Linked DNA regions of Homo sapiens: region 2 is linked to region 1. The links come from fine-mapping of genetic effects on gene expression. Tissue or cell type: whole blood. Region 1 holds a variant in brackets; the other region holds the start of a gene. All regions are shown on one strand. Distances are between the middles of the regions.

Region 1 (2,763 bases):
CACTGGAGACAACAATTTTAACCAGTTTTTTGTGTGTTTATCCTTCAGGAGAAAAAAAAAACTCTCTCTCTCTCTCTATATATATATATATAAAATTATGTATGTGTGATACACACACACACACATACAACAAACATACACATACTTGCATGCATCCAAAATGATAGTAATTTGTTTTAGAGCCAGGTTTATGAAGGTGCAACTTGCATAAATGAAAGTCCATCGTCCTTAGTGTACAGTTCTATGAGTTTTGACAAATGTATACAGTGATATGCTCACTACCACAATCAAGATGTTGAACAGTTCCAACACTCTGCAAAATTATCTCATGTGCCTTTGTCGTCTGTGTCTCCTTAGTCACCAGCCCTGAAAACCACTAATCTGTTTTCTGGCCCTAAAGTTGTGCCTTTTCCAAAATTTCATAAAAATGGAATCATATAATATCTATGATTTTGCATCTGGTTTCTTTCACTAGAAAATGCATTTGAGACTCATTCATGTTATTGCATATGTGAGTAGTTCATTCCATTTATTGAGATTAGCTTTTCATTGTATGGATTTACCACCATTTGTTTACTCACCTATTGAATGACATTTGGGTTGTTCAAGGTTTTGGTGTTTAAATTGCGTTGTTTTCCTACTTGTATTGCATTGTTGTAGATTCTGGACAGAGATTTATATTTTGCAAATATTTTATCCAAGTCTGTTTTTTGTCTTTTTGTTCTGTAAACAAACATCCTAAGAGTAATCATTTTTCATTTTGAAGCAGCCTCATTTATCATTTTTCTATTATGGATCATATTTTTAGTGTTGTATCTAAGAAATCTTTGCCTAACCCAAGGTAACAAAGATGTTCTCCTATTTTCCTACAGAAGTTTTATAGCCTTAAGTTTTACATTTAGGTTTGTGATTCACAAAACGGTAACTTTTACACCATGAACAAGATTATGACACTTATATTATCTCATGTTGCATGTTACTTCCAAGTTTACAAAGCAATCCATTAAGCCTTATCTCACTTGCTCATAACCCCGTGCTCTTTCTTCTGTTTCTATTTAGTGGATAAGGAAACTGAGAATCAGAGGAAATAGGTCACCCAATGTCTAGTATCTAGAGGAACCAGCATGCATTCTAGGACTTTTGACCCCAAGTTCATCCTCCTTGCATTATATACTACATGGTTTTAATTGGTGTAGAAGTAGAATCAGTGGCAATTTTATTTCTTAGTAAAGAGGAAGATAAAACAGAAAGAAGAAAATTCAGCTATACGTTTTATTCTTGAAATTGTTTCTTATTCTTTTGCATGAAATGACCATTAATTTCCCTCTGATGAAGTGGAAAGTGAATACAAAGTTGAAGTCCTGAAATATAATCCTAGCCCCACCACTTCCTAGGTCTTTGGCCTTAGGCCAGAAGCTTAAGGTTACTAAGCCTCATTTTGCTCATCTATAAATAATGAAAATAACTACCTTACAAGATTGTTGTGAGGATTAAATTAGATAAAATATGTGAAAATGCCTGCTGTAATACCTGGCACACAGTAAATTTTATTACATGTTGATTTCTTTTCTTCCTGACACACCTGGCATTTATCACTCTTACCAACAAGACTCCAGTAACATATAGAGTCCTCACTGATCAACACACAAAATT[A/G]TATTTAAATATTTTTCAGTATTTTATTGATGAGCATTGGGTTTGTCAACTTAGGAAACTGATATGTTAAGCAAAAATTTTCTTTCAGAAAAGCTACAGCTTTTCTTTTTCTTTCAGAGAAGCTACAGCAATATGTGTTTAATCAATAACTTATCCCAGAGAAAGAAATCCCAAAACCTATTTCAGTAACTCAGCATAGCATTCAGTACTTACTTCTTCTGGTTATCTTTCTTCCTAGTAATAACGAACTTTTGTTGAGTCCATTCAGTGTGAACATTCTAGGGTAGAAAGATCTTACATATTATCCCTAATCCTTGCAACAGACCTTTAACTTGTGAAACCAAGTTTGAATAATTTGAGTAGGATTACACAGAGAGAAAGTGATGAAGCTGGAATTAAAATCCAAGTCTGCTCTATCCAAGTCCAGTCTTCTGGTTTCATATCCTACTACGCTGACTCTTCACATTTCAGTTTCAGCTGGCCACTGCCCTCTGTATAACAATGCTAACCGTCACTCAAGAGTCTTACAAAGTCAACTCTCAGCCTTCTGCAGTGATCTTAGCTCCTTTCATTCTTTTCCCACTAGGCTGATTTCAGGATCTTAAATCATCTAAGCAGCTCATCTTATAACATTTACCTGTTCTCACCTACCTTTGCTGTGCTGGTACCTGGAATTAGACTCGGGCTTGGGCATGAGTAATGCTGACTGGGTAGCATTAGAAAGTCCTGTAGCTGCTACGGTATCACCCTCCTGTGTGTGCATCTGTGGCAAACATACTCATTAACTCGTGAAACAGAGGCAGGATTTCTCCTAAATTTCTGGCTTAACTGTTGCTGGTAAAGAGGCTATTGCATTCCAGGCACTGGCGTTTACATTCACTTCATCAGTTACTAAGAAGATTAGCGAGGTAACAGTGTTTATAGGACATTTTCTATACCTAGCACTGGTGATCAACATGGTATGGGCTACAGAGTAGTGGAGAGCAGAGTCCCATAATCTATTTTAGGATACAAGACTTCCATAAATAAAAAGATAATTGTAGACTGGCCATGCACAATAAGTGTTCTATGAGCAGTGCTGACAGAAAATGCGTTATACCCAATGTGAGC
Region 2 (2,607 bases), 290 kb after region 1:
GCCACATTAGAAAACAGTTCCAGGTTTTTGGTTCTCTTAAGAAACTGGAACCTCTGGGCACAGTGTGTGTGCCTATCTTCTTTTGTGGAAAAGTAGGCTGGAGCTGAGAATTGGCTGCTCTCTTTACACAGGCTCTACAGTTTGCCATTCCCTACCACTCCTGAATGTTTTACACCCATATTTATTTTGTTGCTTCACCCTGCAGTCGGGAGACTCCTGCAGTTTATGAAATTGATACAACAGGGCTTTTTTTTTTTTTTTTTTTTTTGGTAGGGGGTGCAAATCTCTTTGATTTGAGGGGAACGCAGTGGTCGCTTTTGCTTCCAAACAGCCTTAAATCTGCCCGTTTTTCAACGATCTGACCTTACTTTTTCAGGGTGGCCAAAAGCACAAAATTATGAATCAAAGAATGGTCCCCAATTACCACGAGCCAGCTGTGTGACCTTGGGCGACTCCGTTAAGTTCTTTTAGCCAAGAGTGATGAATGGTCTGCAAAACGACCTTAATACCTGTTCTGAATACCCCCACATGGCTGTGGTACAGCAGGCGTGAGATGTTTAAAGTACTCCTAAGTAATTTATAAACTGCAAAACGCTTCCCAGCACAAGCGTCCGCTACAGAGCGCGACGACACCGAGCCGGTTTAGAAGTCCAGTTACTGGAATCCACTCCAGTTCCGTCCTGCTCCCACCTCCTACGCTCAGGGTGGGCGAGCGGAAGGAGACTCTCAAGGGAGAAGGCCTGGAAAACTGGCTAAGAAACGAAGCGAGAAGTTCCTCAGCAGGGGTAAAGTTGTTGGCGGCATTTTTAAGCCCCTAGAGTGGCACAGCGACTCCCGGTCGAGATGACGGACCCCGGTGCGTGACCAGCGCGGGAGCCAGTCCCGGGCCACCTCCCTGCTTGAAGTCGGGCCTGGCCAGTACCCTCCCGGCGCAACCCCGGACCCGGGACCCCCGACTTTGCCCTAGTCCCCAACCCCCACAATCACCTCCCTTGGTCCCCCTCCACGTGACAAGAGCCGGAACCGTCACTTCCGGCGGCGCGGGCAGCGCGCCTGCGCGGGTCGCCCGGCCTCAGTGAGCGGTTGGCAGCAGCGCCCCCCCCCCCCCCCCGCCAACGGCCACGAGTGGCGGGCGGCGCGGGTTCGGCCGGGGCGGCGGCGGCGCGACGGGCTGCGGTCCTGCGGGTTTGTGGCCTGAGACGTCTAGCCCACTCCCTGGAGGGGCCGGCCGCCCAGCCTCTTTCGCTCTCTTCCTCTACCCCGGCTCGCGCTCCAGGCGCTTAGTGAGGCGGCGGGACGCCCGGGGCACTGGCGGAGGCGGCGGCGTCGCCCCTGGATTCGGACCCGCCCCCTCGCGCCCCGCCCCGTCCCCGCCCTCCCCACCGCCCTCTGCGGGAGCCGGGCAGCTGCAGCGGAGCCGCGGAGCGGGCGGCGGGGCCCAGGCTGTGCGCTTGGGGAGCGCGGAATGTGAGGCTTGGCGGGCCGCAGCACGCTCGGACGGGCCAGGGGCGGCGACCCCTCGCGGACGCCCGGCTGCGCGCCGGGCCGGGGACTTGCCCTTGCACGCTCCCTGCGCCCTCCAGCTCGCCGGCGGGACCATGAAGAAGTTCTCTCGGATGCCCAAGTCGGAGGGCGGCAGCGGCGGCGGAGCGGCGGGTGGCGGGGCTGGCGGGGCCGGGGCCGGGGCCGGCTGCGGCTCCGGCGGCTCGTCCGTGGGGGTCCGGGTGTTCGCGGTCGGCCGCCACCAGGTCACCCTGGAAGAGTCGCTGGCCGAAGGTACGGGCGCCCGGGGAGGCTCGGACAGGCAGGTGAGGGAGGGTTGGGGTGTGGCGGCGGCTTCTCCGGGTCCTCGCCCTCCGGACTGACTCTTATACCCCATTCTTCCTCTGCTGCCGGGCCAGCGGGGGCTCCTAAAGAGTGGCTCGGGCTTTCTCTCTTAAGCTGGCTTTTCTTGCCGCTGGCTGCCCCGGCCGGTGCACAGTTCTCTCATGCCTAGTTTAAATCATTTTCTGTGCTTTTTGACGCGAGAAAATAGGTAGTAGACGGGCTAGGAAGTGGGTTGGTGTTACGATTGGGCCAGTGACTCATTAGAGGGTCAGATCGAACAGGGTTGAAGCTCCGTTCTGCCAGCTGTGGCTCAGACGGGTGTCATGCGTTGGCCTTTTCATCTAAGCCTCCACCCGCGCTGCAGGGCATAGGACCCTGCAGCCCCTGGTGTCAAGCTGGGCTTTGCTGCAGCTCAGTCATCTGTTGAAAAACAATGTATTTGTGTGCATGTGTGCGTGTTGGAGGTGATCCTTTGCTCTAAATTCAGTTAGTAGGTTGCACTGAGGAGCAGGTAAACTTGGAGCCCATTTATCTTTGTTATTTAGAATCTTCTCTGTTGGACAAGGTGCTATTCATGCCCTCCCAGTATGTCTCTTTGATAGTAGTTTAAAAGGTGATATAAAAGCAGGTTAACTTTCACTTAACGAGGTTTTGTGGTCGGTCCTTCATGATCTGGAACAGGTTATGACGGCAGGTAGAAGTCTACTTACAAAAAAAGTTTACTCCATTTTAAAAGAAGAACTTAGAATTTAGTTTTGTATTTCTGGCATAATTGCCTTG

The links. PIP is the estimated chance that this variant, and not a neighbour inherited with it, causes the effect.
Region 2: it holds the start of BMP2K, and the variant in region 1 is fine-mapped to the expression of BMP2K in whole blood (TOPMed, PIP above 0.99).

The regions. Positions count from the first base shown.
Region 1 is chr4:78,483,707-78,486,469 of GRCh38, forward strand. All of the region lies in intron 58 of FRAS1 (Fraser extracellular matrix complex subunit 1), which reads left to right. Among named protein-coding and RNA genes, the nearest start is that of ANXA3, 67 kb to the right of the region's middle. The variant A/G (reference allele first, on the strand shown) is at 1,654.
Region 2 is chr4:78,774,946-78,777,552 of GRCh38, forward strand. It overlaps BMP2K (BMP2 inducible kinase), which reads left to right and starts at 1,405. Exons shown (of 16, transcript NM_198892.2): 1 at 1,405-1,776. The coding sequence starts at 1,599. It overlaps BMP2K-DT (BMP2K divergent transcript), which reads right to left and starts at 1,025. Exons shown (of 1, transcript NR_186689.1): 1 at 1-1,025. RefSeq lists enhancers at 641-1,271, 1,904-2,534 and silencers at 738-987, 1,078-1,747, 2,109-2,309.